Homo sapiens: one gene and its partner. The protein of the gene in region 1 purifies or fractionates together with the protein of each later gene. This does not show direct contact. Each region holds a gene or a part of one and is shown on either strand. Other genes may lie near its edges. The genes, in order: CD5 and PPP1R7.

What was found.
Region 2: the proteins of CD5 (region 1) and PPP1R7 purify together in Homo sapiens (affinity purification with mass spectrometry; one large-scale study listed by BioGRID and IntAct). This does not show direct contact.

The regions. Positions count from the first base shown.
Region 1 is NC_000011.10:61,101,008-61,105,510, forward strand, and holds the start of CD5 (T-cell surface glycoprotein CD5 isoform 1 precursor), read left to right. Parts: upstream 1-1,481; 5' UTR 1,482-1,553; coding exon 1,554-1,608; intron 1,609-4,503. UniProt on the Homo sapiens protein: Lymphoid-specific receptor expressed by all T-cells and in a subset of B-cells known as B1a cells. Plays a role in the regulation of TCR and BCR signaling, thymocyte selection, T-cell effector differentiation and immune tolerance.
Region 2 is NC_000002.12:241,167,436-241,171,250, reverse strand, and holds part of PPP1R7 (protein phosphatase 1 regulatory subunit 7), read right to left. Parts: intron 3,576-3,815; exon of another isoform or gene 3,514-3,575; intron 1,471-3,513; coding exon 1,384-1,470; intron 1-1,383. UniProt on the Homo sapiens protein: Regulatory subunit of protein phosphatase 1.

The DNA of each region.
Region 1 (4,503 bases):
TCAACATGGAGATCACACACACACATCAACATGGAGATTACACACACATCAACATGGAGATCACATTCGCACACATCAACATGGAGATCACACACACACAACATGGAGATCACACACACACATCAACATGGAGATTACACACACATCAACATGGAGATCACACACTCATCCACATGGAGATCACACACACACATCAACATGGAGATCACACACACATCAACATGGAGATCACATTCACACACATCAACATGGAGATCACAAACACACATCAACATGGAGATCACACACACACATCAACATGGAGATTACACACACATCAACATGGAGATCACATTCACACACATCAACATGGAGATCACACACACACATCAACATGGAGATCACACACACACGTCAACATGGAGATCACATTCACACACATCAACATGGAGATCACATTCACACACACAAACATGGAGATCACACACACATATATCAAATGGGGATTACACACACATCAACCCCAACATGGAGATCACACACACAACACAGAGATCACACAAGTCAACATGGAGATCATACACACACATCAACATGGAAATCACAAACACACAACATGGAAATCACACACACATATCAACATGGAGATCACACACACACATCAACATGGAGATCACACACACATCAACATGGCGATCACAATCACACACATCAACATGGAGATCACACACAACACAGAAATCACACACGTCAACATGGAGATTACACACACATCAACATGGAGTTCACACACACATCAACATGGAGATCACACACACTCAACATGGAGCTCACACATACACCTCAACATGGAGATCACACAACACAGAGATGACACACACAACACAGAGATCACACAAGTCAACATGGAGATCTCTCTCTCTCTACACACACACACACACACACACACACACACACACACACACACTGGCACAAGCCCAGCATTCATGGCGCAGCCATCTCTTGTACTTGCTAGCAAAACACCACCTGTGGAAAGTCAGCTCAAACTTCCAACCTCATCCCTCACAAAGGGGGAATGGAGGGTTTGGTTTTGGCTTTCACTGGAGTCTGCAACAAGAACTGGCATCATGCTGCCCATTTCCCGCCTCTCCCCACCCAGACCCCTGCCTCAGGGACGCCTGTCCTCAGCCCAGCCCTCAGCTGCAGCCAGGCCTTCAGCCTCCGTAACCCCCGCTCAGGGTCCCCACCCCCTGCAGCCCTGTCCCTCCAGGATGCATGGCCTTGTCCTGTGTGGGGGTGGCCGAGAGCACTGCCCCAGCCCTGGGTACCTTGGGCAGGAAGCTGGCAGAGGCCAGGGCTGCCATTCAAACAGGGGCAGGTGGTTTTGCCAGGAGGAAGTTGACAGTTCAACTTCAAACATGGGTGACGCAGGCCCCACACTGCCTGCTCCCCGTCCCACCCCTCCCTGAGCACGCCACCCCGCCCTCTCCCTCTCTGAGAGCGAGATACCCGGCCAGACACCCTCACCTGCGGTGCCCAGCTGCCCAGGCTGAGGCAAGAGAAGGCCAGAAACCATGCCCATGGGGTCTCTGCAACCGCTGGCCACCTTGTACCTGCTGGGGATGCTGGGTGAGTACCCCTCCCAGGTGTCCTGCGAACACCCGGGCTCGCTCCAGTGCAAGGAAGGAGTTCCCAGTTTTACCCAAGGCTGACTCTGGGATCCACATGTCAGCCCTCTGGAGCGTTGTGGAGATTTGGGGCCACTGGGATCCCTGCCTGCCCCCACTAAGCCGCAGCTTGGCCCTCTGTCCTGCATGTCCCACCCGCCAGGAGCACAACCTTGCCTCTCTCATGCGCTGTTGAGAACCCTGCTTTACCCTTCCAGTGCAAGAGAGACTGCAGGGGGGACCCGCATTTGATGGGGCCCAGACAACTTGATTCCTAGGCTGAGTTGGATTTTAGCAGAGCATTCAGGCCTCCCTCTGCGAGGTCCCCCACTGACAGCCCAGCCTTTACTTGGTCGCCTCCAGAGACATGGAAACTCGCCGTCTCCGAGGCAGCTCTGATGATGCTCTGGACAGACAGTGGGCCGAGGCAGGGTGGAGCCGCCTCTGAGGACGATGTCTGAGCAAATGTCAAGGACTCATAGCGGAAGTCCTAGGCCCTCTCATGCCCAGTCCTGGGTCAGTCCCAGAGGGGCCCAGCCAGGCCGGCTGGGATGAGTACACGCTGGGCCTGCTCTCACTCCAGCCCTGGGTTGTAAGCCCAACCCTGTGTGACCTCGGATAGGTCCCCAAGCCTCTCCAGGCCTTGATCTCCCCATTTATGAAATGTGGGGGTTGGGGGTGTGAACTGGATGAGGCCTGACCCACTTCCTGAGGATTTAGAAGGTCTGGCAGGGTGACAGAGGTGCGTGACTCTGGGCTGGAAACAGGAGGATGCGAGCAGCTTCCAGGCTGGCAGGGAGAGGGTCCGGAGGCCTTGCCTGCCTGAGCAGGGAGCCTCAGCAGCCTTCTAGGGAAACCGGGTGTGCAGGTGTGAGTGTGGGGGAATGCATGTGTGTGTGTCTGTGTGCATGTGTGTGAGAACTGTGTGTGGGGGAATGTGTGAGTCTATGTGTGTCTGTGTGAGTCTGTGTGTACGTGTGTGAGAACTGTGTTGGGGGGTAATGTGTGACTCTGTGTGTGAGTCTGTGTGTGAGTCTCTGGGCATGTGTGTGAGTACTGTGTGTAGGGGAATGTGTGAGTCTGTGTGTGAGTCTGTGTGTGAGTCTCTGGGCATGTGTGTGAGTACTGTCTGGGGGGGAATGTGTGAGTCTGTGTGTGAGTCTCTGGGCATGTGTGTGAGTACTGTGTGGGGGGGAATGTGTGAGTCTGTGTGTGAGTCTGTGTGTGAGTCTCTGGGCATGTGTGTGAGTACTGTGTGTGGGGGGGGAATGTGTGACTCTGTGTGTGAGTCTCTGGGCATGTGTGTGAGTATTTTGTGGGGGGGAAAGTGTGAGTCTGTGCGTGTGAGTCTGTGTGTGAGTCTGTGTTCATGTGTGTGAGAACTGTGTATGGGGGAATGTGTGAGTCTGTGTGTGAGTCTGTGTGTGAGTCTCTGGGCATGTGTGTGAGTACTGTGTGGGGGGAATGTGTGAGTCTGTGTGTGAGTCTGTGTGTGAGTCTGTGTGTGGGAGTCTGTGCGCATGTGTGTGAGAACTGTGTGTGTGTGCTTTCATGAGCACAATGCGGCCTCCAAAGGCAGGATTATCTCCCCAACACATGTGACAATGGCACCTGTGCACACATGTTCACATGGTTCTTCTCACATGTAACAACAACAGGTACAAAATGCCTTCTGTCCCAAAGTAAGAGGCCTGAGACAGACCTCTGGCTGGCTTCAGGGACCCTGCTAAGGAGGGACCAGGCCCTTAAACCCCCCACCTGCTCCTCACCTCTGGCCTCAGACTTCATTGAGATAGGGCGGCTCCCAGCTGAGTATGGGAACCCGTGTCCTGCTCTAGGGCCCTCCCAACTGAATCCCATCATGGGTGAGGCTCCTGATGGCACCAGGCAAGTCCCCTGGCCCAACACAGGCCACAGTCAGGAAGACTTGGAGGTAGCCCCTTCACCCCAGTATGGGGACCTCCTTGAACCCCAGGAATACTCAGTTCCCAGTGTCTGAGTGAGCCGGTGGGTACCAAGCATTCCCTTTGTTCAGTGGGTAACGGTTTACAAAGCACTTTTAAAGCCATTTTCTGCTGCAAGCTTCACAACAGCCAATGAAGTAGGTGGGCCCATTGGCCCCATTTTACAGTGGGGAAAAGCGAGGCCCAGGAAGGCCGAGTGCAAACCCAGGGTGCAGCAGCTGGTGCACAGCCGAGCTGACCCCAGCCCAGCATTCCTGCCTTCACAGAGGCCCCTCCCTTAGCTAAAAGGGAAGGCCACCAAAGGCACTTCCGTGTGCAGGAAAATGGCCCTGGGACACAACCTCCACCAGCAGAGATACAGCCACCAGAGCTGGGGACACCAAGGGCCAGGGTTGCTGGAGTCAAACAGTGCAGGCACCCTTTGAGCCATTCCAAGGAGAGAGGCAGCAATGCCAGAGCCCTGGGGACACCACAGCCTCCTGGCTGGCATCGGGGCTTGGGGACCTTTGGATCCTGAGGCATGAAGATGCCCCCAGCAGGCCTGGGTGCTAGTGACAGGCCAGGGCTTCCCACAGTTGCTCCCCTCTCAGCCCCAGCCTGCCTGGACAGCTGCTGGCAGTGAGGCGGGGAAGCGGCTCTAACACAAACTGCACGTCCCTGACTGGCCTAGCCGATGCGACTCTGAAAGCCAGCACTGGGACGTGGGAAAGTCATGGACTCTGCAGTTTGAATTCCAGTCTGCCACTTACCAACTGGGCGACCTTGGACTAGTTCTGTAAGCCTCAGTTTTCTCATCCGTAAACTGGGTGCAACAGTACCTCATAGAGGCTTATAAGGATTCAATGAATCAATGCACACAGAGCTTAAGTACAATCCTGGCATATAGTATAGTA
Region 2 (3,815 bases), on another chromosome or scaffold:
GATCACCAGCCTGCCTGCCTCCCTGCTAGCTGTGGTACCCAGGTTGGCCCCTGCCTGTGGTCTCAGCACTCTGTGCCCCATGCTCTGTTCCTAGGCAGGGCATGCAGAAGGAATCGTTACGCTTCAGGAACATTGCTTCAGTATCAGCTCGTTTCCCAAACCTGCTCCCTAATTTTTTGCCAGGTGCCCTTTCCCTATCACCTGGTCCTCTGTCTCTGGACTCCTTATTCCTGTTGTTTGGTTTCTTTGTGTTGTTCCCTGGCTTCTTTGCCAACTCCCTATGCACTAATTCAACCAGCCTACCACCAGCCACACCTTCCTTCAAGGGTGGGCTGCACATAGACCCACCTGGACTCATTGAGGCTCCCCCTGGCCTGGTACATCTTTATCACCTGCCAAATTCTGGCTCTGATCTTCCCAGACATGCTCTGGTATCCCATCATGACACTACTCAAGACCCAGTGCCACTAATAAGGGGCAAGGAACATTTGCAGCAGGCCACCTGTGTTCTAGGGAAACTTGGATGACCTTTTAAAGTGGGGAAAGGAGAAAGCACAGGACATAAGCAGGGTCAGCAGCACGGCTAGAGGAGAGACAAGGAAGAATGATGCCTTACACTCAGCATGAATCCTGGATTAGACTGAATGTATCTGAGGACACTACTACATTCCCAGCATCACAGGGTGACACCTGTGCCGCAGTCTCTGCAGGGCCACGTGCTAGCGGAAAGGCAATAAACCTTAGGAGATTTCTCTAAGGGAATCCTAGCACTGAAGACTTCCACTCGGGGATCATTTCCCAACCCCTTTAGAGGAACTGCAAAAACTTCTTATATTCTGTTTCTCTTCCTGCTGACTCCACAACACTACTCCTGAAACCATACCTGTGACAAGACAAATACAAGGCAAATTCCAAGATGACTAACTGCAGAAACCCATCCAACATTTCCTTCTGTTGTGCTGGAATATATCTGTAGGGAATGCGTCTGCCTCTCTGCTGAGGTTTGCAAACCATTTGGTCAAATGACAATTGTAGGTTCTACCCATACCTAGATCAGGGCTTCTCCAACCTTTGTGTGTACTGCAATCACCCGGAGTCTTGTAAAGCAAAGATTTTGACTCAGTTTTCATCTGGGCTATGGTGGGGCCCAAGATTTTGCATTTCTAACAAGCTATGTCAATGCTGCTGATCTGTGGCTCACGCTGAGGAGCACAGACAACACCCAATACAAGTCTACAAGAGCGCCCACCCCAAATCTCATGATGTGCGGAGTCACTCAGCATGAAGGCTTACAGGAGATTCTTGTATTCATTCATAAGACATTTTAATCAGTGAGACCAGTTTAGTCAAAGTGTCATCAACCCCAGCGTGTATTAAACTTACCCAGAACTCTTGCAGCTCTGTTAGATGGCTGATATTTTCAATCTTTTTGATTCTATTTGATGCAATGTCCAACATCGTGAGTTTGTTCTAAAAGAAGGAAATAAAATGTTTCCTGGATTACCTCTGATCAACAGTGATTTGCATGACCACGCAGGCAGTGTCAAGTGCTGACCTTAGGGCTGCAGGTGCACTGCCCTCTCTGCCCTCACAGGGTAAGGGCATGCTATGGAGGGTGACGAGACCTGCTTGCTTCCTGCAGCCCTCCCTGGGACAGTGTTTCCATCAGAGCCTGCCCAGCTATCTCCCTGAGCTCTCCTGATCGCTGGAATTTGAGACTGTGTCAGACTCCAAGCCCAGTCCTCCCAGATCCCTGTCCATTGAGACAGACCTAGTGAGACTGATGGTCCCAGGAAGAACCGAGTAACCCCCTGACGCTCTGAAGAAAGGCTGACAATTGTAGAAACATTTACTTAGTGCTCATCACGAGGAAATGTACGACCAAGTAATCTTCAAAACAAAGTTCCTCTCTTCATTTAGGGATGAGGAACTTGGGGCTCAGTGGGGCTAAGAATCTGCCCAGGCGCACAGTAGCAGTGGGAGAGGCAGGACTCTCAGACCCCAGGCCTACACTCTTGTCTGGGAAAAGGGTCCCGGGAGCATAAGTGCAGAGAAGGGACCCATGCTGAGGACTGGGTGCTGGGCCTGCTGAGCACCTGCTGCAGGGTGTGTGCCCCCACTGGGAGACAAGAGTGTGTTTTTAGGATCTTCTACTCTGAAAATGCACATCAGTTACTCACTTTCCAATACATGTTAGCTAAGCCTGAGTAATAATTTTGTTTCTCATCAAAAGGAAAACATTTACAAGCTGTCTGAGAACCTCTGACAAAGTTCATTCCCTTCTCTGCCCTCACGCTCTGCTCCCTCCTGAGTCCCTTCCTTGGTTTTCTACTGCATTTTTGGTATTCCAATTCCAAAGCCTTCTAAGTTTTAAGGGAAAGTTAAAAAATTTCTCAAAAGCAAATACTCCTCCCCCCATCTCCCCTGAAATGTACCCAGCCAGTAGCTTTCCCAATTCGAAAGCGCTATGGCTGTGGCCTGGGAGCTCCTCTGGCTGTACCACCCTTGCTGCCTTGGCGCCCAGCACCCCAGCTGGCACCAGCTGCGTGTGTCAAGTCTGACGCCACTCTCCAGCAGGCTATACGTGGCATGCTGCCTAGGAGGTGCCTTCAAACCACCCCATCTCGGTGCCCTGGTCAGGTCTGCTCACAGAGTATCAGGCTCAACAGTGTGCGAGGGAGCTCAGTGGGGCGGGTTCAGAGCAAAAAGGACTGCAGGAAAATGTTGCAGAAGACGCGACTGTGGGTAATCCAACGACACACCGCCTGGCGGTGGGGCTGGAACAGGCCTCTCTAGCACGGACGGCAGCTCTCCCCCGCACTCTGCACCATTCTGAGATGCTCATGGTCATCTGGTATGCAAGCCCAGAAACTGGCAAAATGAAAGTGGCCTGGAACACACGCAGGATTTGAGCCTCGTGAGGTCCAAGCACCAAGGCTCAGCACGAGGGGCAGAGCCGGTGGTGGGCTCTGGCTGTCAGAACCGGTCCATCACCTCTGAGCTCAGGGATCCATGTAGGCACTCAACACTATTTCACGTTTTTCTACAGGAGCTGGACAATGTTGTGAAAACTCATCCAAAAGCAAACTAGTAAGAACTGCTTAAGAAACAGAAAAAAAGAATGGAACAGGGTGAGGAGAGCAGGCACACCAAAGGGCATGACACAACGCCACAGAAACTACACCTGTCAGGGACCACTGCAAACATATTCTAGACCAACGGGAGAGCCCAGAGCTGGAGAAGACACGAAGAACAAGACAGGAGTCGTGAGACACTGGGATGGGGGGTGTCGTCTAAGTTCCCACCTGGGACAAAACTACATTTACTTTCTTATTTCCCACCATAAAAATAAATTCCAGATAAATTAAGAAACAAAACTTAGGAGAAAATATTTGTCTGATCTTTAGTTGAAAAAAATGGCAGAAGAAAGACTGTCACATTTGATCATGATGAAGATTACAATAACGTAATTACCTTTAATACAACAATTTTTTTTTTTCTGTTTTGTTTCAGAGGCCCAAGAATAATCTGGTGTTTAACCAAGATCACAGTGTAGCACTTCTACTGGTAAAATTCTGAACCACACTTCTTTCCAGTTTTCCTGGGACTGGCTGCTTATGTGAACTGTGCTGCAGATTGTCTGTCTCCCGGTGGATGCTTGGTGGTGACTGCAGGGCCTTGGCTCAGGGAGGCCAGGGTGCAGGAGGGCACCAGGGCTCCCTGCTGCGCACCCCACCCGGCCCCAACCCCAGCCCCTGCCACACAGTCCTCAGCGCCATTCCACTGCAGGCACGTCTCGACTTACCACTCTAAAC